2 separate regions of the Homo sapiens genome follow, and region 2 is linked to region 1. Evidence: fine-mapped expression QTL. A gene starts in region 1. The other region holds a variant in brackets. All regions are shown on one strand. Distances are between the middles of the regions. Region 1 holds the start of IL6R (interleukin 6 receptor). Region 2 overlaps IL6R (interleukin 6 receptor).

Region 1 (10,177 bases):
TACTTCCCCCCTATTTTTTAGATGACGACATTGAGACACAGAGAAGTTGAGTGACTTGTTCAGAGACAAACAGCTGATAAGTGGCAGAGCTAAGATTTGAACCCAGACACTTTGGCTCCAGAGTTTGTGTTCATAGAATTATATTGTATAGTGCACCAAAAAAAGTGCACTATCTTTAAGGAATCTCGTTATATATCCTTTAAAAATATGAGTTATCTTCCCTTCCCCACCAACTCAATAATGCAATCTGTTTTCTGGATTTCCAAGCATCTAGCTTGTTTAATTTTATAATTGCGATGCTTTATTAAAAATGTGGTAAAATATACAAAACATGAAATTTCCCATTTTAGCTTTTTATTTATTTATTTAAGATAAGGAAGGTCTTTTTCTGTCCCCCAGGCTGGAGTACAGTGGCGCCGTCATAGCTTGCTGCATCCTCAAACTCCTTGCCTCAAGCTATCTTTCCAAGTAGCTGGGACTACAGATGTGGGTCACCATGTCCGGCTAATTTTTAAATTTTTTGTAGAGATAGGGTCTTGCTATGTTGACCAGGCTAGCCTTGAACGCCTGGCCTCAAGCAATCCCCCTCATTTGGGCATTTTAACCATTTTTTAAATGGTTCAGTGGCATTAAGCACATGCACATTATTGTGAAACTATAACCACTATCCATCTCCAGAACTCTTTTCATCTTGCAAAAACGGAAGTTCTGTACCCATTAAACAATAACTTCCCGCTCTCCTCCTACTAACCCCTGGCAGCTACCACTCTGCTTCCTATCTCTATTAATTTGACTACTCTAGGTACCTCATATAAATGAAATCATATAATATTTGTCCTTTTGTGTCTGGTTTATTTCACTTAGCATAATGTCTTCAAGGTTTATCATGTTGTAGCATATGTCAGAATTTCCTTCCTTTTTAAGACTGAGTAATATTTCATTATATGTACATACCACATTTTTTTATCCATTCATCTCTTGATGGACTTTTGAATTGTTTCTACTTTTTGGCTATTGTAAATAATGCTGCTAAAAATACGGGTGTACAAATATCTGTTTGAGTCCCTGCTTTCAATTTTTTTGTGAATATATCCAGAAGTGGAACTGCCGGATTATATGACAATTCTACATTTAATTTTAATTGTGATGCTATTTATTTATTTATTTATTTATTTATTTATTTATTTATTGAGACAGAGTCTTGCTCTGTTGCCCAGGCTGGAGTGCAGTGGCACAATCTTGGCTCACTGTAACCTCCGCCTCCTGGGTTCAAGAGATTCTTGTGCCTCAGCCTCCCAAGTAGCTGGGATTACAGGAATGCGCCACCAGGCCAGGCTAATTTTTGTATTTTTAGTAAAGATGGGGTTTCACCATGATGGCCAGGCTGATCTCAAACTCCTGACCTCAGATGATCTGCCCGCCTTGGCCTCCCAAAGTGTTGGGATTACAGGTGTGAGGCATTGTGCCTGGCCCTATTTTTATTTTTATTTTTAAAGACGGGGTCTTGCTCGGTGGCCCAGGCTGGAGTGCCAAAGGTGTAATCATAGGTCACTGCAGCCTTGACCTCCTGGGCTCATGCAGTTCTCCTGCCTCAATCTCCCAAGCAGCTGAGACTACAGGCATGTGCCACTATGCCCAGCTATAACTGTGATGCTTTTTAGCAGTTAAAAATCATAACATTCTCTAAATATTACAAGAAGGGGATAAACTTTTATGAACCCTTTCTGAGAATGGTGCTAAACAAATCCCTTTTCTGGGTGTAAACTCACCTGGTGAGGCAATGGGGAGCCAGACTGTCATGCTGCCGGAGCCAGGGATGCTGCATTCCTCCACTGTGAAAGCGAGGGTCTCCACAGGCAGGCTGAGGCCCTCAGTGGGCCCTGGCTGGGGCCTGACTCTGAGGGATGCCACTGGCCAGACACTGAGTTCTGTTATTAGACCTCTGTCTGCCCACGTAACCTCCTCCCAGGCTGATGAGAAAGCAGGAGGGGAAGGTTTCAGAGAATAAGAAGCACCTTCCTGTAATTATTGATTAACCAGGGGCTGGCTCCAGGGCCAGAGGCCAGGGAGGGGTCTGCAGGTCAGTTCAGCCCTACCCCACTGCACTTCTCAGAATAATCGTTGTCCCTAAAGATGGATTCACATGGTGAATAGAGAATAAAGTGCATAGTTTTAAACTCTCACAGTTGAGAATGGCCCCAACACATCAGCCCAGACCTGGAGGTTGGGGGCAGGGTGGGAATTTAAAAAGACCACTTTGAGTCAGGGTATCTGGGATCTTGACCAGCTCTGTCACCACTGCCTGTGCCATCTTTACCAAGCAACTTCTCTTCTTGAGGCCTAGCTCCTTATCTAAAAAGTGAGGGAGGAGAAGCAATGATGACCAAGTCCCTTTTGGTTTCAAAATAACCTTACATATTTATTCTGTGGGTCTCCTGTAGACTTCTGCTTTAGGCAAACTTTAAGATGCTTCATCGCTTCAGGTGAAAGGTGAGAGAGGACTTGCTTGCTGGGAGTCAGCCTAGGGCTTCCCCCTTTACAGGAGACGGAGGGTCCCTGCAGGAACACCGGTGAAGGAGAGGGTGTCCCACACACCAGGTTCTGCTCTCTGCTCTCCCCTCACAGACTACAGAACACCAAGTGCCTGCTGCCATGGTCTGCAGTGTCTTTGGTCCTGGGTGGGCCGACCGAGCCCTTGCTCAGTGAGAGTCCTGGGCCAGGAGCCAGACCTCACCCTGGAGCTGCCAGTTACTAGTAGTGCAGTTTTGAACAAGCCACTTTACCTCTGTTAGCCTCAGTCTACTCATCTGAAAATTGGGGGCAATGTCTCCCAGCATTCAGGGTTGAGAATTTCAGAGGAGATTGTGTATGTAAAGCAATTTGTAAGCAGCACAGTTATCTGAGAAGTGTTCTGGCTCAGACAACTAAAGTCTTCATTGTTCCTTCTGTTGTCTGGGTGAGGGCAGGTCAGGCTGAATTGTGCAGGTATGCTTTCTTCTCTTTCTTTTTTCTTTTTCTTTTCTTTTTTTTGAGAGGGAGTTTCGTTCTTCTTGCCCAGGCTGGAGTGCAGTGGTGCCATCTCGGTTCACTGCAACCTCCGCCTCCTGGGTTCAAGTGATTCTCCTGCCTCAGCCTCCTGAGTAGCTGGGACTACCGGTACGCACCACCATGCCCGGCTAATTTTTGTATTTTTAGTAGAGATGTGGTTTTACCATGTTGGTCAGGCTGGTCTCGAACTCCTGACCTCATGATCTGCCCACCTTGGCCTCCCAAAGTGCTGGAATTACAGGTGTGAGGCACCACGTCCGGCCTGGCCAGGATTAAATTTTTTCATGTGAACCACAACACTAAAACTTTGTATATTGCTGCGCTTATCTTACAAATCAGGAAATAGGGGTTCAGAGAAGTTAAATAGCTTGCTTAAGTCACACAGCCAGCAAGTGGTAAAGCTGGGATCTGCATGACTACAGAGCACACAGGCTCCCCACCAGTAGATTAGAGAGGGGGAGGTCTGCTTTGGTGCAGAGACAGGTGGGATCTGTGATGCCCGTTCTTGGTTTCAACATTCTTTTAAACTCTCCTATCTGAGCCTAGGACTTTCTGCAGCCTTCCTGTTTTAGGCTGGCAGCTCACAGTCCCTCTCTGGTTATTTTCAGGTCTGTGTGTGCCACAGAGAGGAAGGGGGCAACCACAGTGGGAACCGCTTTCCAGCCCTGCTGCAACCCCTTTTGAAATAGCAGGCGAGAGGGCTGGTGGCCTCCACTGTGCTCTTCTGTTCCTGTCTGTGGGCATGGCTAAAGCAAACAAGCTCACCCACACCAGCTCCCATCGTGCGGTGGATCAGTGCATGTGCTTGGTTCTGTCTGGCACTGCTGATGGGTGGTTCCTACAGAAAGATCCAGATGCACGGGGTCTGAGGACTGTTTCAGAAGCTCTGTCCGTCCATGCCTGGCCCTGTCCACTTGGGAGTTCCATTAGGCCATGCCTGTTCCAGCTGTCCCAGGATCTTTGATCTGGGTTAGGATTGGCCTGAAACCAAAGGTAGAAAAACACATTCTAATGAGCAGTTGCTGGTCTAGAAGCTTCTCAGCCTAAACTTTATTTCAGCATTTTTCTTTCCCTCCAGATTCAGCTATGAGGCCATCCTATCAGCTTTAGGCTCTGTGGGGGTCCTTGAGAGAGTTCCCCTCCAAGGGACGGACAGATGGTCCCCTTCAAGGTCCTTGTGGTTGCTCAAAAGCCAGGTGCTTGTTTCTTTCTTTTTTTCTCTCCTTCCTTTCCTTCCTTCCCCTCTATCCCTCCTTCCCTCCCTCCCTCCCTCCTCCCTTCCTTTTCTTTCTTTCTTTTCTTTTTTTTTTTTTCTTTCCAGACAGGGTCTCACTGTCATCCAGGCTGGAGTAGCAGCCCCCAATCACGGCTCACTGTACCCTGGATCTCCCGGACTCAAGCAATTTTCCCACCTCAGCTTCCCTAGTAGCTGGGACTATAGGTGTGTACCACCACACCCAGCTAATTTTTAAATTTTTTTATAGAAATGGGGGTCTCACTTTGTTACACAGGCTGGTCTAGAATTCCTGGACTGAAGCAATCCACCCACCCGGCTCTCCCAAAGTGTTGGGGTTACAGGCGTGAGCCACTGCCCCTGGTGTTAGTGTCTGTCTGTCAAGTCAGGAGGGCAGCCATGAACGTTCTGATGTCTACTGAGCACGTGTGGCCCAGACCGTGTGTCAGGTGTTTAGGTGCCATCCACAGAACCTTCCTAATAACCCTGGGCAGCATAGGCTTTCTTATCTCTGACAGATGAGGAAATGGAGACTCAGATTCTGAACCGAAGTCACAGACACAGTAGATGGTAGGTCTAAATGGGGACCCAGGTCTATCTGACTGCAAAGTCCAAACCGTTTCCTTGCCTCTGCTGCAGCCTGCGAGGAGCAGCTGGGCAGAAAGACTGTGCCTTTACGGTGGTGAGTCTTCCGATGCCCAAGCCTCACCCCAGACCGATGAAATCAGAATCTCTGGAGACCCGACCCAGACATTGGTGGGTTTTAGGGCTCCTGGCTGATTCCAGTGGGCAACCGGGCTACCAAGCACTGTTTTACCCTAAGGGTAAGAGGAACATCGCCTCCTCGAGGGCTCTCCAGGTGTGCCTTTCACAGCGTAATCCCGTTCACGAAACCAAAAATCAAAACTAGGCCACTGCCCACTGGTGGCTGATACGCCCTTTTCTCATCAACAGAACCGGGAGGAAGGGCTCTGGTGGGGCTGGCGGTCCCCTGTTCTCCCCGCTCAGGTGCGGCGCTGTGGCAGGAAGCCACCCCCTCGGTCGGCCGGTGCGCGGGGCTGTTGCGCCATCCGCTCCGGCTTTCGTAACCGCACCCTGGGACGGCCCAGAGACGCTCCAGCGCGAGTTCCTCAAATGTTTTCCTGCGTTGCCAGGACCGTCCGCCGCTCTGAGTCATGTGCGAGTGGGAAGTCGCACTGACACTGAGCCGGGCCAGAGGGAGAGGAGCCGAGCGCGGCGCGGGGCCGAGGGACTCGCAGTGTGTGTAGAGAGCCGGGCTCCTGCGGATGGGGGCTGCCCCCGGGGCCTGAGCCCGCCTGCCCGCCCACCGCCCCGCCCCGCCCCTGCCACCCCTGCCGCCCGGTTCCCATTAGCCTGTCCGCCTCTGCGGGACCATGGAGTGGTAGCCGAGGAGGAAGCATGCTGGCCGTCGGCTGCGCGCTGCTGGCTGCCCTGCTGGCCGCGCCGGGAGCGGCGCTGGCCCCAAGGCGCTGCCCTGCGCAGGGTAAGGGCTTCGGGCGCACCTGGAGGGCTGGGGCAGCTAGCGGCTGGGGGAAACCGCCTTGGTCACCGCAGTCTGTGGGAGGCTGGAGGGAGGAAAGGAGGTGCGACGGATCCCCTTTTCTGTGGCTGCCTTGAGGCCCCGCGGGTACCTAGCTGTGTGGTCGCGGGTAGTGGCTCTTGCGCCCCCTGCTGCGCTTGCTCCCTTGGTCCGGAGCGCTCCCCGGAATGCCCGGTGAAGCTGTGCGGGAACCCTGCGGTCTGTGTACAGGACTGTGTCCTTGCAAACCTGACTCTCGAGCTTCCTTCCCAGTGCCCCCAGGAGCCTTTACACAACCGCGTCCCAGGTTACTCTAAGGGGAGACTGCCCGAGAGGGCGCGCCCCAGCGGGGTGATGTACCCGCCTGGGGAGTCCTTTGTACCAGCGCCCCTCTTCTCCCTCTGCATTGGGGGTCCACCTCGCCTGGTCCTCCCCCCACCCCCGCGGGTGCATGTGTGGATGACAGTGCCCTGACTATGAAGGGACTGACATCACGGGCGCTGAGTCACGGATCTTCCCGCTGCACGGAGTCACTTTGGCAGCCACCAACTCTGGGAAGCCAAGTGCCCCAGTCCTGGGAATTGAGTCGGGAGGCTGGCAAGGGAGTGAGACCTCCTGGGGCTGGCACGTGCTGGACTCCCCTCTAGAAAAGAGAAGGACCCGTGAGGGAGAGGGCAGAGGCACTTACTGCTCCCGTTGACTGTAATCTGCCCCTGGCAAACCAGGCTTTTCTTGGGCTCTGGCCGCATGCCCAGCTGCGTGTCTAGTCTCTCTTCTGGAAGAGTTGGGCAACTGGCTCTCCAGAGGTTTATTTTAGGGTCCCAGTGCTTCTTTGAGGACACAGCAGAAAACTAAGGGGCAGCTGACAGGCTTCTGGAACAGCTGACAGGCTGGGGAGGCTGAAGGCTAAGACTTTCAACCACTAGATCACACTGAATTCCAGTCCTAGGTGAACACTGATCTCTCCCTTTGAGGAGGTGACTTTCTGCAACTAGAGGCTGAGCTGGAGTGTCTGAGGCTCTCTTTGCTTTTTGGATGGTTGTGGTCCTTATGATTGGAAGAAAAAAAGAAGGGATTCCATTTTCAATACACATTTATAACTCCTGCCAGTAACAGACACTGTTGATTGGGGCACCCATTCAATGTTTTCTAATCCTCCACTGTATCTACATATAACTTTGTTTGAAAGAGGAGACTGAGGTTCAGGGAGGTTGGGATGGCGGGATGGCAGGTTGTCAGGCCCCGGTGATGGAGGCCAACCCCTCCCGTGGCTCTGTGCTCCAGTGTGGTAGATGTCTAAGACTCTCAAATATAGAACTAGATCAGCAGGCAGAGCTGGGGGCATTGGGGCAAGCTGAGAGTCACTCTTGTCTGGCTGAGTGCTGGGACAGAAAAGGCTGAGGGAGGGAAGTGGAGGCCCAGGCTTGCCCATGGTGGTGTTAGAGGGATGCAAGACAGGTTCCAGGGCTCGGATGGCCTCAGGAGCAAGCAGGGCTCCCTTGGCTGCCTCTGCTGCTGTCACGCCAGCCCAAGGCTCCTGCCCCAGGGAGGTTACTGTTACTGCTGTAGTTGCCACCACCTGTTGCTCCTGAGTGGATGCTAGGCCCTTCCAGGGCAGCCAGTTACAGTCAGTTTTCCATTTCCCTGGTGCTCAGGAAGGATTAGGAGAGGTGGTCTCATGGCCTGAACAGCCCATGAAAGGCAGAACTGAGAGACTGGGGAGGAAGTGAAAGTCCTCCCAGCTCAGAAGGAAAATGCAGAGAAGTAGAAATACCCAGCCCCTCTCCCACACCCACACAGACTCAGCCCACAAACTGGAGAGTAAAAATAAAGAAATCGTACAGGAAGCATGGAGCAAATGACTGTGAGATGTTTCGCTTTAGAGAAGTGAGGAGCAGAGGGGGAGCAGAGGCTGGAGTTGGCTGAGAGGGGAAATCCGCAGGTACAGCCTGCGGGGCTCTTAGAGCCCAGAGGTTTGTTTTCCTCGGGATCAGCTGCCGCCCACACACCCTGGAGCTGCCAGGACTTCTCAGGTGTACTCGTTGTCTAAGGGCCTGGACTAGCTGGGACTTAGGCTTCTGCCGGTTCCAACACTCTGGTGCTGGAAGGCTGGACTTGGGTGACTCAAGTTCCCTCTTCCTACTGCAATGCAAGAAAATACACAAAAGAAGTATGTATACCTTTAAGTATCTCAAAGAGCTATCTCAGCTTCTGAATTTCCTTCTAGGGCACCTCTTCCTGCCCCCATTACCCACACACGTGCCTAGCCTCACCCTAAATCAGTATTTCTCAAAAGCTTAGTTCTGAGCCTAGCATCAGATCTGGTGTGTGTGCTGGGTGGGAGGGCTTTGGTAAACATGATGATTTTTGAACCCTAACCCAGATTTATTAAATAAGAACACCTAGGAGTGAGGCCTGGGGCATGTCCTTTTAAACAAACTGCCCCTTGTGATTCTTAGGCACTGTCAGGTTTGAGGACGGCTGCCTAAATGGTGTCATTGAGGAACTGAATGAAGGCCCTCCCGCTTCGGGCTCTCTGTTGCCAGAAATCTCTCCTTGCTTTGGCTTGCTGCTTGTTTATTCATTGCAGCAAACATTTCTTGAGTCGGTGTAGAGCCTGTGAGGCCTGTGTAGGATCAGCTATGCAGACTCCACCCTAAAAGGAGCCTGAAAATGGTCATGGGTAAATCCTGAGAAGGGCTGAGAAACCCCAGACTCTGACCGGGCCACTGGGTACCAACTACCCGTGAACAGATTGTCTGGCTTGGGGTAGGGGGTGGTTAGAGAGAGGAAGTTCCTCTGACTGAGGACCAAGATCCCAAGGCAGCAGGCACACTGATCCTGACCCTGACCCTCATCTCCAGCCCTCAGCAGCCAGGGTAAACAAATACTCCCCTCACTGGGTATTTGTAGATTACACAAAGTAACCTAGGTGCTGACTGCTGAAAATATACACTCCCTTCCCCCGTCTCCTGAATCCTGGTCCCACCAGGCCTGGAAGCCACAGACCCAGCAAGCAAAAGAGTTTCCAGTCAATGAATCTAGTCTGGATTGAAGCTGTGCTCTGTAATACGGTAGCCACTAGCCACGTGTACCTATTTAAATTTAAATTATGCCAGCGCAGTGACTCACGCCTGTAATCCCAGTACTTTGGGAGGCTGAGGCAGGAGGATCTCTTGAGCTCAGGAGTTGGAGACCAGCCTGGGCAACAGGGTGAGATGCCGTCTCTACAAAAAGATTTAAAAAATTAGCTGGGCACAGTGACATGAGCCTGTAGTCCCTGCTACTGAGAAGGCTGAGGTGGGAGAATCACTTGAGTCCAGTCTGCATGGAGCCATGTTTGCACTACCGAATTCCAGTCTGGGCGACAGGAGACCCTGTCTCCAAAAAATTAATTTAAATGAAATCAAATAAAAACTTAGTTTCTTAGTTGCACTAGTCACATTTTAAGTGCTCAACACTCACATTGCTAGTGGCTACTGTACTGAACAGTGCAGATACAGATCTCTTCCATCATCGTGGAAAGCCCTACTGGACGGTGCTGGGCTAGAGTGTTAACCAGTTTCTTCCAGAGGTTTTCTGTTCTCTTTTCCTTTATCCCCCTCTGCCTTCTGCTCTCCTCCACCTGAACACAGCTCATTTTGCATAGGTGATGGCTAAGGTCTTCAAGCCAGGCACATCTCTGCCCTGCACTGCCAAGTAAAAATGATAACACCTTGGGCAAGTGATTTAACTTCTTTGACAGCCAGTGTTCTAGAAAATAGAAATAATTGTATTACCTCGAAGGGTGGTTATGAAGATGAGATGAGCTAAGTAAGGTATTAAATAGAGTGTTTACAGAAGTCCCTAACACACAGCAAGTGCTTAAATAAGTGTAGGTGATCATTCATTCACTCCAAAAATATATTTTTGGAGTGAACACCTCCTACTCTGTTCCAGGCACTATTCTAAGAGCTGGAGATACACCATGAATAAAAGAGACAAAAACCCCAGGCTTAGTTGAGTTTCATTCTAGTGTGGGAGACTATTAACAGGATGTAAATTAAGTATGTGGTATGCTAGCGACTAGTGCTAAGGAGAAAAACTAAAGCCGAGAGGGAGACAGACCCCATGTGTGTTTGTGGCAGGGTGGGGTGGCATGGTGCCTTGGATGGGAGGCCAGGGAATGCCTTGCTGAGAACATAATATTTGAGTGAAGACCTGAAGAAAATATACAAATCTCTAGAGATTCCCTATATGTCCATCTTGGGCAGGAAAATTCTTGCCTCCTCTTTAACAATGTGTACTACCTGAGGGTGTGTTATGTTCTGGAGCAGAGGGCTCTGTGGGGACACATGGATGCTCCCTGCCCTGGA
Region 2 (8,000 bases), 62 kb after region 1:
CCACCCACCTTGGCCTCCCAAAGTGCTGGGATTACAGGCATGAGCCACCACACCCGGCCTTATTTTGCTTTTATAAAAAACACTGTGTTGAACATCTTTGTGCATAAAGGGTTTTTTTTTTTTTATAGCTATGTTCTTTCTTTTCCCAGAAGTAGAATTCCTGGGTCAGAGAGTCTGAATTCTTTGAAATCCAGAGTGTAATGATTCTCTCCTCAGTCCTTTCTTACAGGAGAACTCCATTCAATGACTCAGCATAGCTCCAGTCAGCAGCCCTGCTGGGCTCTCTTCCTGTGTGGTGTCCACATGGTGAAGCCCTAAATAATATTCTGCAGATTGTTTATTTCATTTGGATACCAAGCTAAAAGCCAGTGGCAGATTTGGAGCCAACTATTAATTATTTATCATAACAAGGACAGGAATAACCTGTCGATATAAAAAGAAACCCAAGGAAAATCCCCAAATCTTGTTTTTGACATTGGTTTCCCCTCCTCTTTCCCAGCCCTTCCTGGAGTAACTGATCTTCCATGGAATTGAGGGAGGCCACCTTGTTCCCACTTTGGGGTTAGGAGGCATGTCAGTCACAAAGTGGGAAGCAAGAGGGAGGGGCTGAGGCTTGGGGCACTGGCCACCCTGGCACAGTTGAAGGGCCCCTTTAGGAAGGGGACGTGACTGTGCTTTTGAAGATCCATGTCACCATTTCATCTTTCTTTGAGCTGTCAAGTGACTTTTCTCAGTTACTGAGCCCTGGCTTTGGGCCCAGAGTGGAGCACTGTGAACCAAGCTGTGATCAGAAAGATGTCTATCTCCTTCCTGTGTAGCATTGACTTTCCTGTCAGATGAGTCAAATTGTGCCCAGTGGTGCCGACAGTTGAGTCTGTGGGAACTCACCAGCATGGTGGGAGTGGACCGAGAGGCGTAGGGAGAACTGGGGAGGTCAGCAACATTAGGAGCAAGAGGAACAGGAAGGCAGTTGAGGGAGCAGTGGGACCCTTTTCCTGCTATTACATGGCGGTTGCAAATTATCTGCCTCCTGCCAGCCTTACTTTGACCGAGAGGCCCATTTTCTTTCCCTACTAAAAGAATGCTTTCTTTTTTTATTTTCTTTCCTTTTCTTTTTTTTTATTTTTGAGACAGAGTTTCACTCTTGTTGCCCAGGCTGAAGTGCAATGGCACGATCTCAGCTCACTGCAACCTCTGCCTCCCGTGTTCAAGCGATTCTCCTGCCTCAGCCTCCCAAGTATCTGGGATTACAGGTGCCTGCCACTACGCCTGGCTAATTTTTGTATTTTTAGTAGAGACGGGGTTTCACCACGTTGGCCAGGCTGGTCTTGAACTCCTGACCTCAGGTGATCCGCCCGCCTCGGCCTCCCAATGTGTGGGGATTACAGGCGTGAGCCACTGCGCCCAGCCTATTTTTCTTTTTTTTAAGTAAATGGATTTGGGACTGATGATGTGTACCTAATGAACAGCCTCTGCAATGGGACAATTAAGGGACTGTTAAGTGACTTTTTGGTGCCTCAGTTTCTTCACTTGTAAATTGGACCAACAATACACATCTATTTCCTTGGGAGTGTTTTGGAAACTCACCAACTCTTCAGAGTATGGTGAACTCCCTGGTGATAAAAACAGTCGGGTCGGGTGTGCCGGCTCATACCTGTAATCCCAGCACTTTGGGAGGCCGAGGCGGGCGGATTGCTCGAGCCCAGGAATTCAAGACCAGCCTGAGCAACATGGCAAAACCCTGTCTCTATGAGAAATACAAAAATCAGTCGGATGTAGTGGCACACACCTGTAGCCCCAGCTACTCAGGAGGCTGAGGTGGAAGAATCACCTGAGCCCAAGGAGGTTGAGGCTGCTGTGAGCTGAGATCACGCCATAGCACTCCAGCCTGGGTAACAGAGCAAGATCCTGTCTCAAAACAAACAAATGAACAAAAAACAAAAAGACAGCTGATAGTTATTGCTCCTTTGAGCCGAAACCTGGGCGCGCCAGGCCACCAGGGCAGCCAGCTGTTGGTGTTTTCCACTGTGGGCTTGTCACAGGGGGAGCTAAAAATCTGTGTGGTTTGTCTTTGTGTGTTTGTGTGAAGGTTCAAGAAGACGTGGAAGCTGCGGGCTCTGAAGGAAGGCAAGACAAGCATGCATCCGCCGTACTCTTTGGGGCAGCTGGTCCCGGAGAGGCCTCGACCCACCCCAGTGCTTGTTCCTCTCATCTCCCCACCGGTGTCCCCCAGCAGCCTGGGGTCTGACAATACCTCGAGCCACAACCGACCAGATGCCAGGGACCCACGGAGCCCTTATGACATCAGCAATACAGACTACTTCTTCCCCAGATAGCTGGCTGGGTGGCACCAGCAGCCTGGACCCTGTGGATGATAAAACACAAACGGGCTCAGCAAAAGATGCTTCTCACTGCCATGCCAGCTTATCTCAGGGGTGTGCGGCCTTTGGCTTCACGGAAGAGCCTTGCGGAAGGTTCTACGCCAGGGGAAAATCAGCCTGCTCCAGCTGTTCAGCTGGTTGAGGTTTCAAACCTCCCTTTCCAAATGCCCAGCTTAAAGGGGCTAGAGTGAACTTGGGCCACTGTGAAGAGAACCATATCAAGACTCTTTGGACACTCACACGGACACTCAAAAGCTGGGCAGGTTGGTGGGGGCCTCGGTGTGGAGAAGCGGCTGGCAGCCCACCCCTCAACACCTCTGCACAAGCTGCACCCTCAGGCAGGTGGGATGGATTTCCAGCCAAAGCCTCCTCCAGCCGCCATGCTCCTGGCCCACTGCATCGTTTCATCTTCCAACTCAAACTCTTAAAACCCAAGTGCCTTAGCAAATTCTGTTTTTCTAGGCCTGGGGACGGCTTTTACTTAAACCGCCAAGGCTGGGGGAAGAAGCTCTCTCCTCCCTTTCTTCCCTACAGTTGAAAAACAGCTGAGGGTGAGTGGGTGAATAATACAGTATCTCAGGGCCTGGTCGTTTTCAACAGAATTATAATTAGTTCCTCATTAGCATTTTGCTAAATGTGAATGATGATCCTAGGCATTTGCTGAATACAGAGGCAACTGCATTGGCTTTGGGTTGCAGGACCTCAGGTGAGAAGCAGAGGAAGGAGAGGAGAGGGGCACAGGGTCTCTACCATCCCCTGTAGAGTGGGAGCTGAGTGGGGGATCACAGCCTCTGAAAACCAATGTTCTCTCTTCTCCACCTCCCACAAAGGAGAGCTAGCAGCAGGGAGGGCTTCTGCCATTTCTGAGATCAAAACGGTTTTACTGCAGCTTTGTTTGTTGTCAGCTGAACCTGGGTAACTAGGGAAGATAATATTAAGGAAGACAATGTGAAAAGAAAAATGAGCCTGGCAAGAATGTGTTTAAACTTGGTTTTTAAAAAACTGCTGACTGTTTTCTCTTGAGAGGGTGGAATATCCAATATTCGCTGTGTCAGCATAGAAGTAACTTACTTAGGTGTGGGGGAAGCACCATAACTTTGTTTAGCCCAAAACCAAGTCAAGTGAAAAAGGAGGAAGAGAAAAAATATTTTCCTGCCAGGCATGGTGGCCCACGCACTTCGGGAGGTCGAGGCAGGAGGATCACTTGAGTCCAGAAGTTTGAGATCAGCCTGGGCAATGTGATAAAACCCCATCTCTACAAAAAGCATAAAAATTAGCCAAGTGTGGTAGAGTGTGCCTGAAGTCCCAGATACTTGGGGGGCTGAGGTGGGAGGATCTCTTGAGCCTGGGAGGTCAAGGCTGCAGTGAGCCGAGATTGCACCACTGCACTCCAGCCTGGGTGACAGAGCAAGTGAGACCCTGTCTCAAAAAAAGAA[A/G]AAGAAAAAGAAAAAATATTTTCCCTATTAGAGAAGAGATTGTGGTTTCATTCTGTATTTTGTTTTTGTCTTAAAAAGTGGAAAAATAGCCTGCCTCTTCTCTACTCTAGGGAAAAACCAGCGTGTGACTACTCCCCCAGGTGGTTATGGAGAGGGTGTCCGGTCCCTGTCCCAGTGCCGAGAAGGAAGCCTCCCACGACTGCCCGGCAGGGTCCTAGAAATTCCCCACCCTGAAAGCCCTGAGCTTTCTGCTATCAAAGAGGTTTTAAAAAAATCCCATTTAAAAAAAATCCCTTACCTCGGTGCCTTCCTCTTTTTATTTAGTTCCTTGAGTTGATTCAGCTCTGCAAGAATTGAAGCAGGACTAAATGTCTAGTTGTAACACCATGATTAACCACTTCAGCTGACTTTTCTGTCCGAGCTTTGAAAATTCAGTGGTGTTAGTGGTTACCCAGTTAGCTCTCAAGTTATCAGGGTATTCCAGAGTGGGGATATGATTTAAATCAGCCGTGTAACCATGGACCCAATATTTACCAGACCACAAAACTTTTCTAATACTCTACCCTCTTAGAAAAACCACCACCATCACCAGACAGGTGCGAAAGGATGAAAGTGACCATGTTTTGTTTACGGTTTTCCAGGTTTAAGCTGTTACTGTCTTCAGTAAGCCGTGATTTTCATTGCTGGGCTTGTCTGTAGATTTTAGACCCTATTGCTGCTTGAGGCAACTCATCTTAGGTTGGCAAAAAGGCAGGATGGCCGGGCGCGGTGGCTCACGCCTGTAATCCTAGCACTTTGGGAGGCCAAGGTGGGAGGATTGCTTGAGCTCAGGAGTTTGAGACCAACCTGGGTAACATAGTGAGACACCATCTCTATTATGAACAATAACAGTTAAGAAAAAAAAAGGCAGGCAGGCGGTTATGGTGGTTCCCTCCCATCCCACCACATAAAGTTTCTGAGACTTGAGAACAGCAAAATGCTGTTAAAGGGAAATATTAAGAATGAGAATCTGCAGTAAGGGTGATTCTGTGCCCACAGTTCTTCAATTCTTTATACCGTTTTACCCACATGTGGTGTTACCAAAGCCGGGCAGAACCATGCTAGCGGAAGATGTGAAATCCAGATAGCTCATTATTGCCAAGAGCTAGGCAGCTTTGATCTCCAAATTGTTATTGCTTTCATTTTTATTGTAATGGAATTGCTTTGTTTTGTTTTTTTGTTTTTGTATTGAAGAGGGTTGTTTTCCCTTTATTTTTCATAAGCTAATGTAAATGAAGAAAAAATGTCTTCTCTGGGCTGTAGGCCTGGCTCAGCGTACACAGGTATACATCCTAAGCTCTCTATGTTCTCTAATCTGTGGTGACTGAACATGTGTCTCAATGCACGGGGCATTTCTACCTGTGTTTCTGCAGCACCCCCACTGCCTTGAGTCCCCAGCAGTGCTGTTATTTGCCTAACACCTGTAGCCATCTGCCACGCAGCCAGACGTGAAACGCTGAGACAGAGACCATTTAGGTTAAATACGACAGCTTATCCTGCTGGGTGGGGAAAGTAAAAAATATGCTGGTTCAAGGCCTAAAGTAAAATGATCAATAATGTTTGTAGCATTAATGAAATATTTTCAAGAAATGTGTCCAGGGGTAGCACTGGCTATGTTGACGAGGCCTTTGGTAACTCAGAGAGCTCTTGGCCCTGATGGGGACTTGCCCTTACGCTTTCTTTATCAGGCTCTGAGTTCACACGGAGCCTCTGGCACTTCCCTGCTGTCTTGGGAGAAAGGAAACTGGTTGCCGCGGCAGGTTGTGGAATCTGTTGCTGGAACCAGGCTGGAAGCCCACCTGGTAGTGAACAGGGCCCAGTGGGGCAGGCTGGGCATGTTGTGGTCTATGGGTTTGTTTCCTGGAGAATGTTCAGGAATGTCTTCCCAGCTGCTTTGGTGCTGAGCTCTATTATCTCACAGCACGTCCAGAAGGCTAACCCAGGTGGGGAGGATGCTGACACCAGCTCCAGGTGGAGTTGGTGGTCTTAATTTGGAGATGCAGGGGCAACCTGTGACCCTTTGAGGCAAGAGCCCTGCACCCAGCTGTCCCGTGCAGCCGTGGGCAGGGGCTGCACACGGAGGGGCAGGCGGGCCAGTTCAGGGTCCGTGCCAGGCCCTCCTCAGTGCCCTGTGAAGGCCTCCTGTCCTCCGTGCGGCTGGGCACCAGCACCAGGGAGTTTCTATGGCAACCTTAGTGATTATTAAGGAACACTGTCAGTTTTATGAACATATGCTCAAATGAAATTCTACTTTAGGAGGAAAGGATTGGAACAGCATGTCACAAGGCTGTTAATTAACAGAGAGACCTTATTGGATGGAGATCACATCTGTTAAATAGAATACCTCAACTCTACGTTGTTTTCTTGGAGATAAATAATAGTTTCAAGTTTTTGTTTGTTTGTTTTACCTAATTACCTGAAAGCAAATACCAAAGGCTGATGTCTGTATATGGGGCAAAGGGTCAGTATATTTTTCAGTGTTTTTTTTTCTACCAGCTATTTTGCATTTAAAGTGAACATTGTGTTTGGAATAAATACTCTTAAAAAATACCCTTGAAATGTAATTATTGCTTTGGGCATCTGGGTCATCTAAAAAAAAAAGGCTTGCCTGATTCATGAGGAGAAAGGAGTGAGGAAGGGGGGATAATTAAGTAGAACCATTTTTGGGGGGGTATCCCCTTAATGCAGGATTAAAGGACCGCTCAAAAGTAGGTAAGTTCAAGGAAGAAGCAGCAATTTCTCAGAAGGCTTTAATTATGACAGTATTTCCCACACGAGTCCTGGGATTTCTGGAAGGGGTGTGTGGGATTTTGCCACGCTTACATCACATTACCAGGTGGTGGACAGGTGGGGAAGGAAAAGGAAGGGCCATTATTTGTCAGAAGACTGTTTATTGGACCTGGGAGGGGGTGTAACACTATCACAAAGGCCACCCTGAACTCTTGATCATCAGATAGACCAAATCCATCCCCTACTGAAAAGGATCTTAGGTAGGAAAAACTTGGGACACAGCCATCCACATCTTCCAAACAGAGGAAAAGCCATCATGCGGACTCTTTGTGGGTGAGAGCTACTGTGTAAACAGTTCAGGGATGGGGAGGCGAGAACTGCAGGGAAGCCTGGAAATTATGTAACTCCACTCAAAGCTGGACTGAGAGGCGCCGCCTCTGGGCCCCCACCTGGGCAGTCAGAGGAAAGCCACAGGACAGGTGATGGTGGCCGCCATCTCCTTCAGGACACCATGCTCTCCTCTTTGAGGCTGGTCCTTGTCTTGCAGAAAGTGACACAGGGACCAGATGTCACCCAGGTGGCCAGGCTGCGTGGGCCATGGAGGGGGCACGGGAGTGGGCACTGGAGCCAGGACGTGGAGGGAGCTGCCTCCCTTTCTTCATGGCATTGCTGTTAGGATGACATGGTTACGGTGCTCTTTCCAGAAGAACTTAGGAGAGCAGATGGTGATTTCTGTAGAGGATGGCAAGGAATATGCAGTTACTGGAGCAGCCTTCTAAGAAAGCATTTTCCTTATTTACTGAGGCACAGGGCAACCAAACCTTTCTGAATATCTGTGAGAATTACAGGGCAGGGGCAGGAAACAGTGTTTGCCATCCTCCATCCTCCAGTAGCAGAGGTGTGCTGGCGAGGTGAAAGGCCTTTTAAGGCCAGGTGCGGTGGCTCACTCCTATAATCCTAGCACTTTGGGAGGCTGAGGTGGGTGGATCACTTGAGGTCAGGAGTTCGAGACCAGCCTGGCCAACATGGCAAAACCCCGTCTCTACTAAAAATACAAAAATTAGCTGCATGTGGTGGCGGGCACCTGTAATCCCAGCTATTCTGGAGGCTGAGGCAGGAGAATCGCTTGAACCTGGGAGACAGAGGTTGCAGTGAGATGAGATCGTGCCATTGCACTCCAGCCTGGGCAACAGAGCCAGACTCTGTCTCAAAAATAAAAAATAAAAAAAATTTGCCTGGCATGGTGGCGGTCACCTGTGATTCCAGCTACTAGGGAGGCTGAGGCAGGAGGACTGCTTGAACCCGGGAGGCGGAGGTTTCAGTGAGCTGAGATCACACCACTGCACTCCAGCCTGGGTGACAAAGAGTGAGTGAGACTCCATCTCAAAAAAAAAAAAACACAAAAAAAAAATAA

What was found.
Region 2: its variant is fine-mapped to the expression of IL6R in whole blood (INTERVAL, PIP above 0.99).

Annotation. Positions count from the first base shown.
Region 1 is chr1:154,399,929-154,410,105 of GRCh38, forward strand. It overlaps IL6R (interleukin 6 receptor), which reads left to right and starts at 5,415. Exons shown (of 10, transcript NM_000565.4): 1 at 5,415-5,786. The coding sequence starts at 5,702. It overlaps IL6R-AS1 (IL6R antisense RNA 1), which reads right to left and starts at 6,636. Exons shown (of 2, transcript NR_147855.1): 1 at 6,511-6,636; 2 at 2,393-4,029. RefSeq lists silencers at 5,220-5,349, 5,550-5,699 and an enhancer at 5,939-6,545.
Region 2 is chr1:154,463,045-154,471,044 of GRCh38, forward strand. IL6R (interleukin 6 receptor) reads left to right here. Exons shown (of 10, transcript NM_000565.4): 10 at 2,090-6,406. The coding sequence ends at 2,336. It also overlaps a transcript of SHE not described here. Among named protein-coding and RNA genes, the nearest start is that of TDRD10, 35 kb to the right of the region's middle. RefSeq lists an enhancer at 1,921-2,422. The variant A/G (reference allele first, on the strand shown) is at 3,818.